2 separate regions of the Homo sapiens genome follow, and region 1 is linked to region 2. The links come from fine-mapping of genetic effects on gene expression. Tissue or cell type: cerebellum. Region 2 holds a variant in brackets; the other region holds the start of a gene. All regions are shown on one strand. Distances are between the middles of the regions.

What was found. PIP is the estimated chance that this variant, and not a neighbour inherited with it, causes the effect.
Region 1: it holds the start of CRMP1, and the variant in region 2 is fine-mapped to the expression of CRMP1 in cerebellum (GTEx, PIP above 0.99).

Annotation. Positions count from the first base shown.
Region 1 is chr4:5,891,167-5,896,166 of GRCh38, reverse strand. It overlaps CRMP1 (collapsin response mediator protein 1), which reads left to right and starts at 3,081. Exons shown (of 14, transcript NM_001014809.3): 1 at 3,081-3,578. The coding sequence starts at 3,198. RefSeq lists an enhancer at 4,476-5,000.
Region 2 is chr4:5,016,852-5,023,786 of GRCh38, reverse strand. CYTL1 (cytokine like 1) reads left to right here and starts at 4,329. Exons shown (of 4, transcript NM_018659.3): 1 at 4,329-4,494; 2 at 6,608-6,652; 3 at 6,823-6,935. The coding sequence starts at 4,342. It also overlaps a transcript of STK32B not described here. The variant A/G (reference allele first, on the strand shown) is at 3,842.

The DNA.
Region 1 (5,000 bases), 870 kb before region 2:
GCGCTCCAGCCTGAAGATGGAAGTGGCCTGGTTCGCCACGTGGGGCTGCCTGAGGGAGCCAGCAGTGTATAAGGCAGAGCATGATGCACGGAAATGAACTGTGTGTGCAAGGACCCTTATACACAGTATGCAGTTTCAGGAGGGTCCGATCGCCTCCTCTGCATGGGGAGAAAAGAGTGAGAGGAAGTGATATAAAGTCAGTGACACGCAGTGGGCGCCACAAAGGTGTGTTAGATGAATGTCGAATGATTAGTTGCCCAAGACTGCATGCAAAACAGGATTCTAACTCAACCACCTAGACTCTTCTGCCTAAACTAGGTCCCTTTATCTCTTATCTCCCAGTGGGACCACCTCAGTCAGGCTCTTGGGGAGAGGAAAGGGTAGTTGTTTCGATGTGGACTCTGGCACCAGACTACTCTGTTTAAACCTCGAAGTCTTACTTGCCAGCTGTGACCCTGGACAGGTTATTTATGTCTCTGAACCTCAGTTTTCTCATCTGTAAAATGAGGCTAAAATGGCAGTTTCAAGGTTGCTGCGAGGCATAAAAGAGTTACTATCTGTTAGGTGCTTACCATGGTCCGGGCACGTAGTAAACTTTCTATAAGCAGAAGCTATGAAGATCCTTTCCTGCTTCTGCATAAAGACAGCACTTTCTCAGCTCCTTCCTTGCGTCACTCCCTCTAGTCTTGGCAACTGCCCAGCCCTTTCTCACAATGGAAAGGGTTTTCTTTAGAAGCAGTAAGATTTCCATCACCACCAACAAAGCCTGAGAGACTGTGTCCTCAAGATGTTGAGAGCAGATTCAAGCATGCAGTAGGAGGCCTGGCCTCCAAAGTTCCACCTAACTCAGACTTTTGAGTTTTCTGATATTTCTCTGGGTTATGTCACCCTGAACATTTGTGGGGTTTTAGAAGAAATTTCTATGTGGTTTTCGACATGAATTGTTCTTGCCTGGAATGGGCTGGGAATAGTATTTCACAGGACAGAGAAAAATTTTCATTGAAAAATCGAAAACACTTGCAAGATAGCCTGGAGGCTGATGGGCCTCAAGAGGAGTGTCTGTGGCAAATCTGCACAGTGGACCCAGGGACACAAGGAGAGAGGAGCCAGGATGCAGCTGCGGTGGGTGGAAGGTAGATGGAGGCTGTGTGTGGAACTTTCTGTTCTCGCATTCAGCACTCTCTCCCCCATGAGAGTAAACACTTGTTGAAGACAGAGACTTAGAAATACTCATCTGTGTCCCCACACTAGCCTCTCTCTCAAGCACAGAAAAATAACTTGCTAAATGCCCACCGAGTGGATGAGCCCACGCTCTAGGCCTGGCTGAACCTCCTTGAGATTGAGGCCCTGAGGGAGCCATTTCACATCTCCCCTCCTGTTTCCTCTTCCAAGAGGGGGCCGGTAAAAATACCTACCTGCTGCACAGACCCCTTGTTGCAGGGTTGAAAGACAGTAGCTTCAGGGAGGTGTCAGCTGAGGCCACGGATCCGACGGCCCCAGGATCCTCAGTCCATGGGGCCCAAGAGTCATAAAACAAGAACATGAATCCATCTGTCTGTCTGGTATTCCTGGAGCTTGGTCACGCTGCGGGAGCTCTGGCTTGCAGCTGGCAGGGCCCGGGGTTGAAGGGACAGCTCCCAGCATGGAAGGCTATGGGTGGGGGGACATTGCAAGAAGCACTGATGCTCCCCTCTGCAGTCCCCACCCAGTCCTGACTTTGCTTGTCTAGACTGGCTCGAGGAGGGGGTCGGCAGCTGGCGATTCTGCCTCTCCAGGAAGTGCAGCTGGGACTGTAGGGTCCCCAGGGACTTGCAGGATCCTCTGCCTGATAATCGTGGAGAAATAAGGGAAGGTGTCTATAGGAGGCAGGTGGTGCCTGGCCTTAGAGGAGAGCCCCAGCAGAGCGACCTCCACGACAGAGAAACCCCAGAACGCCCAGACTGCAAGCTCCAGGAGCAACAAAAGTGGACTGTGCCCCTCGAATGAGGGAATATCTGTCTGTCTGGTTGACTGCCAGCTGTGTGTGTGTGGTCATCTCTGTCTCTGTGTGTCTTTCTCTGGAGCGTTTTTATTTAAGCTTTTGACTTCCTTTATTACTGGTGTGGACTTGTGTGTGGGCATCCTGTTGCCAGTTTATGATGCACATGTGTGGAATCGCCCTGAGCTTGCCTTTGATATTGGTGTGTTGTGTGGTGTCATTGGCGTGCACGTGTATGTGTGTGTCGCTGATTCTCATGCAAGAATGTGCTTCTCTTATGTGTCTGTCGGAGTGTGCCTCTAGCATGTCCCTCTTGGCTGCTGCACCACCTTTCCTGGCCCTTACCACCTCTTGGCCCACCATATGGGTGCTTTTGTATCCAATTCCCCTCCTTAGCAGGTCAGCTCCTGGAGGGCAGGCACTTGGTCTCTTTTGTCCATGGCTCTGTTCCCAGCTCCTACAACAGTGCTAGGCACTAGTGGGCGCTCAGCAAAATAAAACTGACGGAATGAACGGTGTGTCCAACGCATGTGCCTCTCCAGTTGTGCAATTAATCTTGGTGTGATACTGTGTGTGAGTGGGGTTGTGAGACAATGAGGATTTCTGTTGTGTGTTTGTAATGAACTCGGAATGTGCACAAGCATATATGTGTATGTGTGTGCAACATTGAGTATGGTGTGCATGATCGAGCCCCTGTGTATCTCTGGAGAGCATGTGTGATTGACTCTCGTGTGTGTGCCAGCATGTCTGTGCATCTCTCATGTGTTTGGCGTAATTGTCTGGTGTGCAGGTATGAACCCGCGTGTGCCTCCAGAGCGTGTGGGCGCGCGAGTGTACGCACACGGCTCCTGCCCCGCGCTCTCCTCGCGCCCTGCGCTCCGCCTGGGGGCGGAGAGTGGGGGGTGCGGCGAGGGCACTGCGGTGCCGCGGCCCGCCCTCCGCGCTGCGGCTCGGGAGCGTCACCGTCCCTCCCCGCCCCAGCCGCGATCCCCGCCTCCTGGTCCTTTGTAGCTGGCCGCGCCGCTAGCCCGCAGCCGCCCAGAGGCCCCGCCCCGGCCCCGCCCCGGCGCGCGCCACGCCCCGCCCCTCCCCTCCCTGGGCCGCAGTCGCGCCCGGGCCGCCGCAGGCCCGCACCGAGGCGCGGAGCGCGGCGCACGGCGGTGCCCAGGGCCGCGGGCGGGCAGGCGGGAGCGCGGTGGGTGGCCGGCCTTGGACGGGTATGGCGGACCGGCGGCGCGCGTGGAACACCGAGGACGACCTGCCCGTGTACCTGGCGCGGCCGGGCAGCGCGGCGCAGACCCCGCGCCAGAAGTACGGCGGCATGTTCGCCGCGGTGGAGGGCGCCTACGAGAACAAGACCATCGACTTCGACGCCTACAGTGTGGGCCGCCGCGGCTCGGCGCGCACGCCGCGCAGCGCTGGCCGGCCCGACGCGGTCGGGCTGCCAGGGCCGGGAGGCAGCGAGGACACGGCCAGCGACGTGAGCGAGCCCTCGGGCTCCGCGGTCAGCTCTCCCGGAGAGCGCGACGAGCGGCCGCCGACGCTGCGCATCCGCCGCCCCGCGCCCCGCGACCTGCCCCTCGGCCGGGACAATGGCCAGGTACCCTCGGGGCGCGCGCGGGCCAGACGAGGGGGGCGGGCCCCGGGAGGACCCAGGGCATGGGGCGCCCGAGGGCCATGCCCGGGCCCCGGTGTTGGGGCAGCGGCCGCCAGGCTGGGGAGAGCCACGGCGCGGCCCCTCCCCCACCTCATCATGCAAGAGGTTCCCAGAGCTGGGGCGACTCGGTCGGGGCTGGCCGGCGTGGTCCGTGAGACTCGGAAGGGATCGCCCGGGTCCAGTCCCGGCTCCTCTTCTACAGAAAGGGAGAGAGGTTCTGAGAGGGGAAGTTGGCTAAAGCTACCGCATGGACGCTTAAACGCGAAGGAACCTCTGGGATGAATCTAACCCAGGCCCCTCATTCTGTTTTGTGAAAAGAACTGGAGCTCCGTTCCGTGTTGGTCCATTCATCCATCCACTCAGTCGGTAGTAATTATAGAGCACCTACTGTGTGCCGGGCCCCGGGAGAGGTTCCGCGAGTCGCCTGCGGCCACACAGCTTAAAGCTGGAAGGAGCTTTTTTTCCGAGCGCTCCCCTCATGCTTGCTGGGGGGAAGGATTTGGTTAAGGATTTAGTTCGTCGGGCAGTTGGAGCCGTAAACCCCTACCCTCAAGCGCCAGTAGATTCAAGGGGCACTCCTGAGCTCCACAGCACACACCGATGTGCCTGCTTCACAGAGCAAGGTGGAGGTAGAGCTGGGATTTGAACTGGGGTCTCTGGCCTCCCGGACCTGAGCATGGGGCCGGGAGGATCAGGGAGAGGGAACGCTAGGGCTTGGGCCCTGCGGGTATTCTCTCTTGAGCTGGGGGTCACCAGGAAACTGGGGGAAGAAGGGCGGATGGACGGCGTAGCCTTTGGATGGACCGACGAGAGCCAGGGTCAGGTGCCAGAAAAACGGAAGTTGGAGCATCCGAGGGCTGGGGAGCTTTCGAATTGGTCCAGACCTGGATGCCGGAGAACTGCTAGGTGCCAGGCCCAGGGTAGGCGCTAGGTCCCTGGCTCAGCAACCTGGCCCCACCCTCCAGAAGTTCCCAGGCTAGGGTGAGCGACGGATTCATTGTGAGAATTAAATCAGTTAATGCCGGTCGGTAGTGAGCATTCAATAAATGTTTGTTGTTGACTTTTATTACAATCATTATCATTTTAATTAAACCTTCCCCTCTTAAATGCTATGAGTGACCCAAAGTGAGCCTGGAGGGAAGCAGAGCTTGATCGGGGCAGATATCTGGGAGGGCTTCCTGGAGGAATAGGAGCAGGGAACTGGTAAACACGGTGGTGGGCCTCTTCGGGCCCCATCCCTTCGCGGGCGGGCTGTTGCTCCAGAGCTCTCCGTGGTCCTGAAGCCGGAGCCTCGCGAGGGAGAGGTCCAACAGCAAGGGTGTGTGTGTGTGTGTGTGTGTGTGTGTGTGTGTGTGTATGTGTGTG
Region 2 (6,935 bases):
GAATTTCTGCTTTAGAAATGGCCACCGGGAGGAGATAGGGCTCTAGACAGAGAGGCGTTAATCGTGATGTAATTGAAGGGTCTTGAGGCCACTTCTCATTAAAAGGGTTCACGAAGTGGGGATGGTAGCTCCAAAAGAGAGTTGACTCTGTTTTGAGGGGCAGGGAGGAGTGGAGGTAGAGACATTGAAGAATGAGAATGGTCTTAACATCGCCACACCTCCGTTCTGCATAAGAAGGTACAGGATTTGAAGGCCTGCACCAGGGTGTCATCGCATCTCATCTCCACCCTGGGAAGAATTTGGAGCTGCCCAGAGACTGGAAGGAAGTTGTAAGAGGCAAAGAGCTCCCTGTCCAGGGACGTATGCAAGCAGACTCTGGACAAGCACTTGACAGGGAGACTGTAAAGGAAGGATAAGCAGCAGGCAGGTAGATCTGGATAATTTCTAGGTTCCCACATTAATTTCTGTTATTCTACCAAACCCCAGAGAGACAGTATGCTTGTTTCCTGTGGCTGCTGTAACAAATCACCACAAACCGAGGGACTCCAAGCATCACGAATTTATGATCTTACAATTCCGGGCTCAGAAGGGGTCTAACTGGGCCCGTTTTGGAGGCCCTAGGCAGGAATCTTTCTTTGCATTCTAGAGGCCTCCTGAATTCCTTGGCTTGTGGCCTCTTCTCCCATCTTCAAAGCCAGCAGCACAATATCTTACAATCTCCCTCACTCTCTGTCTTTCACAGAGACACACACAAACACACACATATACACACACACACACACACATGCCTTCATACCTACCCCGCTTCCCCACTGCATTCGTCACCTCTCAGCTCTCACCTGATAGGGAGCAGCTGCCAGTGATGGGTTAGGGGCTCCAGAAACACTAGGATTTCTGCCATCACACCACTCACCCAGAGTGTCAGCTGCCCTCATCAATCTCCTCCGAGAGGATAGCAACTCTGTCATTCACTGTCTTTTCACCCATCTCAGTGCCTGGCACACAACAGACTCTCGATAAATAGATAGACATGCATCTGGCAAATGAAGAACCCATCCAAAGGCAATGGCCGATATCTACCTCAGAGATGTTCACCTGCTCGTTAACTCTGACTCTTCAGCTCTCCTGCATGATGGGGTCCGTGCCCGATGTAAGACATTAAGAAAACCAGAAGAGACCTTTTGGCGGAGACAAGGGCTTACCTGATTTGTGGGCAAATTCCTGCCTGGATTTTTAATATTCGGAGCAGCCAACTGCTGAAGGAGCCTCAGAAGGGGGCAGAGAAAGAGCTGGTGGGAGGATGCAGGTGATTCGTGGTGAAGGAGACATTTGAGAACAGAACACACGTGCGGGGGTCCACCAGCCTGTATCCAGTGCGGCGTCTCATAGGGAGCCCCTGGTGGGGAGCCACGTCAGGCTGTCCTGCGTAGGTTTCTTAGTGGGCTTGTGCCTTAATCTCTGAGTAACACGAGTAGTCACCAAGTCCATTCAGCCACACCTTACTGGTCATCCGCTCTACCTGGCTGCGTGCTGGGTGCCGAGAAACAGATGAGAAAGACTGTCTTTCTCTCCTAGAGAAGGGCATGGTCATTAAAGGAGACAGATGCCAGGAGGCAAGTCAATGTATCATGCATAGGATGCGGAGGAACCCTGGAGAGGGCCAGAAAGCAGATAGAATTCCCGGATGCACACTGGCATGCATTGGGCTCGGCAGGCAAGCTTGTGTGTGTTGGGCTCGGCACAGGCTGTTTCTCCTTGTCTCCACCTGCCCTGGGAATCAGCACGAGGCACCCTCTCCTCTGGTGTTCTTCCCATTCATCCCACTCCTGGCTTGGTAGAGTGAGAGGTGGCGATTCTCTTGCACCTGGCCCAGTGCACAACAGCCTCATTCCTTGTCTCCCCACTGACTGTGACTCCTCAGGGGCCCAGCATCCACCATATCTCAGTTGGTACCAGTGACAGCTTATGGCTACAGCCACTTACTCATTCATTCTCATGCTCAATGGGAAGGCCTATAAGCCTCTTTGCAGCTCTGAGCTCAGCTGATTTACCCAAGAAGTCCCATGAATAACCACACACGGTATTGCGGGTGGAACAAGGTCAAGTCTCCCAGCAGTACATTTATCTCACAAATGACTCCTGTTTTCCAGCACAGCAATGTCTCCTTGATCTAATGGTGCAGGACTTGTTTGGTCCATGGGCTTGTTTTTCTTCCCTGCTCTGAATTTAAGCCCATTCCTTGAGCACATCCAGAAGCCCTAGAGCATTTTAAAGCAGACCTAGAGTCCCCAGCTGGGGCCAGCTATTCTGCCAGGGAGGCCCATGCCCCAGGCACTATCATGGAGGGAGTGTGGAGACTCCTTCACCCAGAAGAAAACACATCTGTGCCTCCACTTGCCACCTCCAAGCACACACAGTTCTGCCCGAAGGCCGCGGTCCCTATGTCATCTTGCTAAAGGTGTTTAGAGAACACATTCTCACCTACAAAACAGGAAGGCACAGCTTACAGTCCCTGCCCAGGGCTTTTACCACCAGAAACTAGATAAATAAAACACTGGGGCTGGAAGGAACCTCAGACATCGCCCAGCGTGATGCTATCCTGTTTACAGACAGGGAATGGAGGCCAGGTCGAGAAGGGATTTCTCCTGGCAAATACAGTGGGGACAAGCTGGAGCCGGGCTTCATCCCTGTGGTTGATCCTCAGTCCAGCCCTGTGTCCAGGATGCCATGCTCTGGTTCACCCATCCCTGTGGGCTGCATCTTTGGTTGTTTTGTTCTGGGAATGTGGAGCTTGCCCAGGATGCTCCCCTTTCCTCCTTTGTTGGAGGAAGCTTTGGAGGCAGGAAAGTCCAGACATAGCTCCAGGGCTCCACTGCTCTTCCCAGCTTCACATCCCCCGAGGCCCTCAGTTTCCTCGCCTGGGAATTGGGAATAACCCCATTCACTTCATTGGCTGGCTGTGAGGGTCATAGCGTTCCCAATGGCAGCTGGCCTGGTGGCTGCTGGTATGTAAGTCATGTTCAGTGTTAAGGAAGAATCTTCTCCCTTTTGACAGTTCCTTCTTGCTTGTTGCCTGATCTTGGGCAGCCTGAGGACCCCAACTCATCTCTGCCTGCAAGAGTCCTGCTCCTCACCCATCCTGCCCTGTGGGATGGAAGAATGGCAGGAGGACAGGGCCTGAAGTCTCATCCCAACCCATGTGCCTCCAGCTTTGTGACCTCCAGCAAGTTGCTGGAACTCTTGAGCCTCAGTTTTCCCACCTGGAAAATGGGACTCTTTTCTGTGGCACCTACCTCACAGAGACAATTGCTGGATTTAACAGAGACAGTGCTATTAGCTCCGATCACTTGGAAACACACAATGGGCCTGGCATGAGGCTTGCTCAGTCATGCTATATCCTGTTGATTCCTCACTATGGCCTTTTGAGTGAGCCACTCTCACCAGCCTCATCTCACAGATAAGGAGATGGAGGAAACACTGAAGAAACTTGCCCAAGGTCAAAGCCAGAAGGCGGTGACCCTGCTTTGCACCCACGGCGTCTAAGTGGAGAGCCTAGACCTTTACCTGCCACTGTCTTGGGAAGTTAGCCCTGAGGGAGATGCACTTCTTGAAAACTAACCCTTCCTGAGGGTCTGCTCTCCCTCGGGGCCTGTGCTGGGAGCTTGAGGTAGAAGAGGGTGGGGGTACTCACACTCCCCACACATACGGCCGCTCAGTGAGCCCATCCTCCGGACCGAGAGACACACACGGCTTCTGAGAGGCTGGGGGCCCTGGCCCAAGGCTCACCTACCTGGTTAGCGATTGATGGACGAGGACACCGGTGGCCTGACCGCAGCTCTGC[A/G]TCCCTGCTCCACTGCGGGCTGCCTGGAGGGAGGGATGCTCAGTCATCCCCTGCTAGTCCCTTTCCCTCCTGGCACTATATCCATTTTGACAAACCGTGCCATCCAAACCCAGGCCTGACTGCCCACTCCTCTCCTCTGACCCTCCCCTCCTTCCATCTCTGTCCTCCTCTTATCCCCCACCCCTCTCCATCTGCTGTTCCTGCCTTTTCAGGAAAAGTCCCTGTGCAGAAAGAAATTTCTTGCTGAAAGTGTGGGGGAGGCAAAGCCACCCTCTGTCACCCCCTCCTCCAGGCAGCCCCTCCTCTTAACCTGGGGCTTTCGTGTCTGAGAGGATTCCTGTCCCGACCCTGCCCGGTGGGCGTGCTGGCTTCCTCTCTGCCACCCTGGATGGACCGCAGCCTGCGCTGGCCCCACAGGAAGTGGAGGCGTGGAGCCGCCCTGGACCACCCCCAGCCTGCATAAAGGGGCGGTCGGCGAGGCTGCACCAGCGCCTGGCACCATGAGGACGCCTGGGCCTCTGCCCGTGCTGCTGCTGCTCCTGGCGGGAGCCCCCGCCGCGCGGCCCACTCCCCCGACCTGCTACTCCCGCATGCGGGCCCTGAGCCAGGAGATCACCCGCGACTTCAACCTCCTGCAGGTCTCGGAGCCCTCGGTGAGTCCCCCGCCCGCTCAGGACAGGGGTGCATGGCAGACCCAGTTCTTAAACCCTTGCCTTTACACGAAAAAAAAAAGAGAGAGAGAGAGAAAAGGATATTTTTCTTTTCTAGTAAATGTAAATCTCAGGAGTATTTGTGTTTTATTCATCTCCTTTTAAATATGATACCAATGGTTTGCTTTCTTCAAAACACAAGAAAAAGTAAAGACAACACAATTTTTGTGACTTACTAGCAAATATCAAAGGATCTGTTGTAAAATGTAAAAAAAAAAAAAAAAAAAAAAAAGAAAAAAGAAAAAAAAAGGAGTGGGAGGATGGGGAGAAAAACAGCTCCCCATCAGAGTTAAGGAGGACGGAGGAATGAAGCTTGTGTATTGCTTTTGTTAGCCTAGTGAGGAGTGTGCCCTAAGAGGTGGCTCACAGAACTGGCCTCCGCCCCTCATCTGCTGAGGGACCCGGGCAAATTTCTCAGCCTCTGCCTTTCAGTTTTCTTGTCTGTAAAATGGGATGACAGTAGCACCCCTCCCTTTAGAGTGGCTTTGACGATCAAAGGCAGGTGTGAACACAGGCAGGGCTCACAGAGCCAAGCCTACAGGAACAAGTACTCAACAGATGCCAGCTGATGTGAGCACGATCTTCAGAGGCAGATCTGGGGACTCAGAGAGGGGAAGACCCGGGAGGGCTTTTGGGGACTAGAACCCAGGCCTCTGCCTGCTTCTCCGTCGAAACAAAATGCATTAAACTTCATTAAAAGCTTTTGTAAAGTTTCAAAGTGTCTTTTAATCACTTGCAAATGCTTCAAACAAAACATAATGTTTCTCAGATGTTGGGGTTTACAAAAGCCTAGCTAACACCTTCTTGGTATTTTCTTTTTAAAAGTTAAATAACATGTATTTTTTCCCTAATTATAAAAGTATTGTACTTTGTAGAACAGTTGGAAAATAAAGTACAAAGAAGAAAAAAAATCTTGCTTGTAATTCTACCACCTAGAGGTAGCTGCTGCCGTAGCATTGTGGAGGATCATATTTCAGCTTTCTGTCTACATATAGGTATTCAAATACGTGTGTGTTGTGTGTGTGTGTGTGTGTAAACAAAATTTGGGTCAAACAGCACAAGCAGTTTTGCAACTTACTTTTTAATGACACTATCAAATAAGTTCATTTTTGTTTTAACATTTTGTTGTACAGTTTCACCACAATTTACCCACAAGTTTCTTGTTATCGAATATAGACAGCAATCATCTTTTAAAGGAATCTGATTTTAAAAGGTTTAAAAAGTTCAGAGGCTCTGAACCACAGAGCGGGAAGAAAGTGGAAAGATTATGCATTCTAAATCTCTAATTTCACAACTGAGGACTGAAGGAAGGCACTTGCCCATGGTCACACGGGGATTACTGAGAGGGCAGAGCACGAGGGCTTTTGCCCTTCAGCCCTGCGCAAAAACGGAAGCCCAATATAGAAATATAAAAGTATGCAAATTTATGCACTTCGATATTACTATATTATACACTATATACAACTACATATTAGCTATAGAATGCCTATAGAACAATAGGTATTATTACATATATCGTACTTATGTAAGTATATATAATGTCTATAATTACATGCAGTTATACAACTGTTATATAGCTAATATACTTATATAAGTTATTATATAAGTATATTATTATATAAGTTACTATATAACTAACTTATACAACTGTTATATAACTAAATAGTTATAGAACTGTTTTATAGATGTACATATATACTCTGTATGTATACTTGTATTACTGTATTATATATCACTATTTCTATATTACAGTTATAGGACTGCTTTTATGTATATACGTGTATGTATATTTCTGAATGGGTATGCATATAAAACAGCTCCCTGGTTCATAGCAAATGATATAAAAGTTGTATTCTAAAAGTCTAATTCCGGAAGCGCAGTCGCCCATTTCTGGAGGAGTGTGACGTATGACACAAGAAAGTACTGTGCATGTCGTAGCATCAGGGAGGGCCCCAGGGATCTGGGCTGGTCTGGCTGTTGAGAGGGCCACTAGGGAGACTTTTGTGACCAGGTATGCCCCTGTGGGCATCCCAGAACCCCTTATCCCTTTCCACAGGAGCCATGTGTGAGATACCTGCCCAGGCTGTACCTGGACATACACGTAAGAGGGTTCTCCCTGGGGGAGGGAGGTCTTGGGCTGAGGGACTCAGGTCTGAACCTCTGCTGCTGGCTGTGTGGCACAGAGTCAGGGAGAGATCTTATGCAGCTCAGTCCCTGTTCCTCTTGCTACTGACTTCTCCCACAAGCCCCCTCCCCATTGCCCACTCCCAGAATTACTGTGTGCTGGACAAGCTGCGGGACTTTGTGGCCTCGCCCCCGTGTTGGAAAGTGGCCCAGGTAGATTCCTTGAAGGACAAAGCACGGAAGCTGTACACCATCATGAA